Linked DNA regions of Homo sapiens: region 2 is reported to be linked to region 1. The links are microRNA targets in miRTarBase. Many come from high-throughput screens and were not tested one by one. Region 1 holds a microRNA gene; the other region holds the end of a gene's coding sequence.

Region 1 (3,503 bases):
GGCTCCCGCACATACTCCCTCCCCTGCCGCTTTGCAGAGACCACTGAGACCCACAGTCACTAAGCACTAGGGCCACCCTGGCCCAGGAGAGTTGGAAGTGCCAAGGCAGGATCCAACCCGCTGACAGGTCCCTTTGCTATTTCAGGTGAAAAAGGACGGTTAGCTTTTGAGAAGATGGACAAGCTCTGCTCAGAACAAAGAGAAGTCTTTTGCCAGGAGGCAGATGTTGAAATCACAATATTTTAAAAAATCCTGGCTGATGAGCACAAATCTCACATCGTTTTTTTTGCTGCTGCCCAGCCTGGACATAGCCTGCACTCTGGGTAATGGTGCTGTGCACTCCTCCAGGAGTGTGAGCTGCCCAGAGCTCTACCTGAGACTCCGGCCATTGACCCAGCCCCAGGGCATGGGCTGGTCTTTTGTACAGAGGCAGAAAAAAGCAAGGCAAAGGTACAGCATTCCAGGGGCTGCACGGCCTCAACAGAGCGCTCAACTTCTGGCTGAGGGTCTGTGTGACCTTCCCCGAGATGCAGAGCTGAGCCAAACTAGGTGGCCACCTACAAAAGGGCCAAGGCCAGGCAAGTTGAGGCCCTAAATAAAAGGCTCCAAGGCAAGTGTGTAGAACTCCAGGCCTCGCTGCCGGTCAGCTGCTCGGCACTTCTGCGTCAAGAGGCACTGGGGATGCAGCAGGCTGGCAGGTGGCTGGCCCTGCTAATGCAAGACTGCTCAGGCCATTTCAGCAGCAGCCAGGTGTCACCTTGGTGAGCTGGGGAAGGTGGGAAGGCACAAAGCCAGGGTTTCTACAACCACACTCTCAGCCCGACTGACTTGCTGCGAGTGCTGGTGGAGCTCACAGACGGCGGCTGGTGGATGGTGGACTGTGAACCTCACTTTCCCTATGTTCAGCAGCACAAAGGGAAGAAGCCACCACATCAGCCCAGGAGCCCTGAGCAGCACAGGCAGTAGGGCCACTCACTTTGGCCATCCGCACCCAAATGCAATCAATCAACCCAGCTTCGGAAGCTACCCTAGGATCTCGTCAATAAACTGCTAAGAAGCCATCAACTGGCCTAAAGAAAGAGTTCACTGAAGAACGCAATTGCTTTAAAGAAAGAAAAATTAGTTTCCTATTTAAGTCTTAAAAAAAAGCAAACCATGTCCTGAGATGTCTGTGTTAATAGTGCAGAGAGAACCTAGGGTTTGAGGTTGCTGTAGCAATGGCATTGGAGAACTTTAACTTGAACATTCTCATCGATACTTCCTGGACATATTTTGTGTTTTTAACTTACTTAGTATTTATTTGCCTTGTTCATATGTTCAATTTTCTGAAATTTCAATTAAACTATTGGTGTTTCACTTTTTACCCAAAAGAGTAGACAGCAGTTGTTTCCCCAAATACCTGCCAGTGAGGAGGTCACTCCTGTGGTCTTGTGGTGCGCTGTGGGGACACTTGGAGGGTGGCCTCAGGCAGCAGCTCCGGTAAATGCAGTCTCCAGGCTTCTCTGCATGCTCTCGAAGGCTCCAGGCGTGCTCTCCCCTATATGGGCACTCTGTGGCACGGCCTTTGCCCTTTTGTCCCATCTGATTTCTGGCAAACCCTCTCTTTTTAAGCATCAGCAGTACCAGCCTAGAGCAGGGGTCCTCAACCCCCAGGCCACAGACCGGTACTGGTCTGAGGCCTGTTAGGAACTGGACTGCATGGCAGGAGGTGAGTGGCGAGCGACTGAGCATGACCACCTGAGCTCCATCTCCTGTTAGATCAGCTGCAGCATCAGGTTCTCTTAGGAGCGTGAACCCTATTGTGAACTGAATGTGTGCAAGAGATCAGGTTGCAAGCTCCTTATGAGAATCTGATGCCTGATGATCTGAGGTGGAAGTTTCTATCCCAAAACCATCCCTCACCACCCCCAGGCCTGTGAAAAAATTGTCTTCCATGGAACCGGTTCCTGGTGCCAGAAAAGGTTGGGGACCGCTGCCCTAGAGCATCCTCCCTCTTCTTGAAAGCTTAGATGCCCTTTTTTATACCTGAAATGGTGGAAGCCACACTGACTTCTGCAGCCCCAGGCCCCTGTGGGTCCACATGACCACAGCCTGTCCTCTTCCCAGTCTCATGAGCCTGGGCCTGCAGCCAGCTTTGAAACAGTCGAGGAAACTTCGAGGGTACTGGGGAACTCTTCGTACTATTTTGGCAACATTTTGCAAGTCCAAAATTACTTCAAAAAGTCAAAAAAATCACTTTGGGGGGAATTTACATTGTTTAATTTTGTACACAAATGAAAAACTATACTAATCTGTCTTATTTCTAAGTCAATTCTATATCAAGTGGACTTTACGTACTGAGATGTGGTAACCATTGTGTCTTACAGGTAATTGGGTAAGGGATATGGTTTTGAGATTACAACTCAAAACACTGTTCTTCAAACAACACTGGTAAGTTTGTTAAGTTATCTGAGGGCCCTACACAGGCAAAGCGTCAATTTGGGAAGGAAATGGGCTGAGGCCTAAGGTGTTCAACAAGCTCACAGTCAAGGAAAGCGCTCCAGCCTGAGGGTGCTGGCAATGCAGGGATGCTGAGGTTAATTCTTAGAAGTGGAAAACTCTAACCCCAGCTGATTGACAACATCTGTTTCACATCAGCAGGGATAGAAAGAAACAGGAGTTACTCATCCTGGTTTAGCTCTATTAAGCAAAGAAAAAAATGGGAAGCACCCCAAATTCATGTTCTTTAGAAAAAAATTTTATTGTTGCAGCTAAAATGCAAACCCATCATGAATATGGCAAGTTGGAAAACTGTACAGTCTGACAGTTCTGTGAGGTCACAGAAGACCCTGAGACACTCCCCCCCACCCACCCGGTCATGCAGCCACGTATCCACACACACCTGAAAAGGTATTATACCAAAACACCTTGCTTTTTTTGTTTTTATTTTTGTAAAAATGGTTTATTCCATGGCCATTGTAAAAAATAATGACCTGATGAGTAAATATTGGCTTAAGGCATATAGCAGAGCAGCTCGCTACCTCTCTAACATAATGTGTAACAAGGTGGAGAGCCAGCTGCTCTCCAAGGATAGGAGGTTAAACCAGTACGTCCATTTTGAAATGCTACTATATATACACACCCAAACTACTACATACATATACAGGACTTAAAAACAACAAGCCCAGCTCAGAATGCTTACAGCCTGGCACCTAAGCCTTATCCACACCTCACCATAGCTCTGCAGGGTGACACCTCGAATGTTCCCACCACAGAATTTCTCTGTACTGGCTTCTACCACGAGAAAGGCAAAATGTGAAAATGCTGGCAAGAGAGTAGCTCGGGAGCTACAGCTGCCGTGTTTTTCATGTTAAAAAGCCACTTAATGTGGAGGTCTTCAGTTCCCTTTGCAGGAAGAGTCGTGAGCACCATCAGGCCCCACAGGGTTTGAGGGTGGGGCAGACGCGCCTCTCTCGGCAAGGTGAACCGGGACAGAGACGGCGGCAGGCTGCCTAAAGGACCGT
Region 2 (3,000 bases), not on the chromosome of region 1:
TTTAAAAAATAACAATTGCAATGACATTAATGATCGATCACCTGTACGCCCCCATACTGCTGGGGGAAAAACCTTCGATATAGTTGAATCCCAAAGAAAAATCAAGACATTATTATCAGGCACCCTATAGCCACAAAATGCTCTGTTGGTCCAGTGGCATCGACACTGACATGTTCAATGTACCAGTGCAGTTAAAATATATACACTTAAAATTATCCTGCAAAAAAAAAAAAAAGCACTCAAGTTGCATAACTAGGCATTAAACCAATTATTCATTCATCCATTCACTCTTTCTCCATCTGTAAAGTTATCACTACAGTCACAAATAAAAATGAATAAAAGAACTAGTATCAAAGAAAAAATCCAAATGTCAATACCCTGCCCCCACTTTGTGGGCTACTATGGTGTGCCAAAGTGACCACAAGAAAAGGGTCATGAGCTATTTGAAATGCAATGACAAAATGACAACTGAAGCATTTCAAACAAAATTCAAAGTCATCTCCCCCCAAATAAAAAATTCAGCAACAAGGCTGGCATTACTATGTACAAACTTACAGACACAAATAAATAGCATCTTCTAACTGTTGGCAGCTTAAGCACTCAAAGTTAGGTCTGAGTAATTTCTTTCTGAACTCTGCATCTTAGACTCCTAAATTAACCAAGGAATATAAATTCCTCATTGTTAGTAATCTATTCTCTGAAAAACTTGGGACTTACTGAATAACATTAATATCCCAAACTCTTGTAGAGCTAGAAGTTTCTAGTGAGCTTACCAAAGGATCAGTCCTTTGACATCTGGAAGCCAGGAGCGATTACCAGATCCCTGGGACTAGGAATATTTCACTTCCTGTTTCCTTTGCATAGCTCTGTACCTCTATTTCTATCATTACAATCATCTCTCTTTGTGGTGTTTTTAGAGGGCTTAATTTCTGTCTTAATACAGTTAAGCTGAAGTCAAAGAAGAACCAATTTTTATTCTTGGTATTTAACCCCCAATGTTCCTCGGAATTATTGGGTTTTCCTTGTTTCCAGAGAAGGCAGCCAACTCTTCTGAAATATCATCTTAGTTCTCTCAGGGTTCAACATCTAAAAGAGAAATAGATTTCTGAGGCACAACCCGTTCTGGGAACAGTGGCCCAGTTCCTGACCCTGCAGGCATGTTTCTTTCAGTCTGCAGTTTATTCTCACAGTATGGATGCAATGAGAAAACCTTTCTGCACAAGGCCTATGGAGAAAACATGAAAACTGGCACCAAAGAATCAGCTGCCATGGGAAGAATGAAAATGCTCGCTTTCTAGGGCCAGCATTGTGCTGCAGGAGTGAAGCCAACATCCACCTCAAGCTTTAGTGGGTAACTTGGACTCTGTCCAGGACAGTGTGACTGACCAGTGCTTTCCAGAAATTGTCAAGGATCAAATCTCAGGCTTCTTCCTTTCAGTGCTTGTTAAAGGTTCTAGAGTAAATGTGAATTACTCTCTTCATCTTAATGATCCATTCCAGGTATCCATCCACTGGAGAATCGTGCTCTATGATAACATACGGGTATACATGCTCTCTCTCTCTCTTCCTCTCCCCCACTCTCTCCCACTAGGCTGAAACACATGAATCTTTTAGTTCCCCAAATGCTGTCACAAAGTCTATGATTGAAAATCTCTAGTTTGGCCCTTCCTTTAGGAGTATTACAAATCTCCTCAGTGCTTCAGCAAAGAAGTTGTTGAATAGTCTTGTTCTCTACTTAGGAAAGGCAGTTTCAAGGTTTAATAACCCTCTACATTGTCTTAGAAGTAGCCACAGCAAGTACGATGGTCCAGATGACCAGTCAACAGAGGGACAAGCAGGCCACAACTTTTCAAAGCTAGAAAAAGAGATTCGGCAATGTATATTTTTAGTGCTTGAGTCTTTTATCATTCTATCCCCAGAATTAGCTTTTTCTTGGCTAGAGTCCAGAAATATCAACCTACCATCTGGGCAGAGAGGAATTCTTATTATTACCACAGATTGGAAGAATGTATCTCAGGAATTTATTGTTTCCGTATCACAAGATAGAACTTCCTTGCCTGGAAGCCATCTCTGAATACAAAGCGTCCATTCAGTTAGTCAGTGTGAGATTCCCCCACCAGAGGGATAAATGCTGTCTAGATTCCATGGGAAGGAGTGGGCTGCTGCTTTCCTGATTGCAGTTTTGGTTGAGAAGGTTGTTCTTCCCTGCTGAGATGGCTGGCTGACTTCACCAGTCAAGGTAAGTGCTTTGTGTACTGCTGGGGTGGCATGTGTCTCCTTGCATCATCCGAATCCATGAAATGTCAATGTCATCAACAGTCTGAAATAGGTCCTGACTGAAAGAGTAAGACAAAGGCTTGCAACTTCAATTTGCCAGGCATCGCTGCAATTGTAATACTGAGCCACTTATTAAAAACTAAGTGGTTTCTGTCCTGTAGTAAAGGGCAGAATGTGATCATCAATGTCCCATTGGAAGAGTTGATCAATTTCCTGGAACAGTGAGAAACATGACCTTGATCAGCTCCATCACATGGCGTGGGGTTAGGACACTCGGATGATCTGTGTCATTGCTTCTTCATCGGCTTGGTTTGGATCCTAGAGACAAAGATGACATGATGATTAAAGTCCTTTGCAAAAGCAACAGGAACTCATGGCTCTCACTACTTATCCCCCCAAGAGAATACACATAACTTTACCAAGTAAATCAAAGGCTTGTAATACATCTTAAGTCTGCATACATGGCTTAAAGTGTAGCCCCATTAGGAAAGAAGAGACAATAAACCTTATTCTTAAAATAATTTAAAGTCTGGCCTGCACTCCATGGTGAAACACTGCAGGGCTGTTAGTGTATCTCTTTCCTAAGAACCTTGTGTTGTTCTCTATACTTAAGGGTTAAGAGTATTCAGATTCAGGTGTCTAAGGAAAAGACCCAGAGAAACCATGTCATGCTGTATTTTTGTCACTGTTTTTTGATCATCATTTAAATACTGAGTACTTAGC

What was found. Region 1 holds the annotated microRNA hsa-miR-645 (UCUAGGCUGGUACUGCUGA, at 1,614-1,632, opposite strand). A microRNA usually pairs through its seed, bases 2 to 8, with sites in the 3' UTR of a target mRNA and lowers its output. Matches are read on the target gene's strand: a 7mer-m8 pairs with bases 2 to 8, a 7mer-A1 pairs with bases 2 to 7 and ends in A, and an 8mer does both.
Region 2: miRTarBase lists NFYA as a target of hsa-miR-645. Seed matches in the 3' UTR shown: 7mer-m8 at 1,588-1,594.

Annotation. Positions count from the first base shown.
Region 1 is chr20:50,583,975-50,587,477 of GRCh38, reverse strand. It overlaps MIR645 (microRNA 645), which reads right to left and starts at 1,692; the gene lies at 1,599-1,692. PTPN1 (protein tyrosine phosphatase non-receptor type 1) reads right to left here. Exons shown (of 10, transcript NM_002827.4): 10 at 2,237-3,503. RIPOR3 (RIPOR family member 3) reads left to right here. Exons shown (of 22, transcript NM_001290268.2): 22 at 146-1,370. The coding sequence ends at 246. RefSeq lists enhancers at 131-643, 644-1,157.
Region 2 is chr6:41,096,952-41,099,951 of GRCh38, reverse strand. NFYA (nuclear transcription factor Y subunit alpha) reads right to left here. Exons shown (of 10, transcript NM_002505.5): 10 at 1-2,595. The coding sequence ends at 2,542. It also overlaps a transcript of OARD1 not described here. Among named protein-coding and RNA genes, the nearest start is that of NFYA, 25 kb to the right of the region's middle.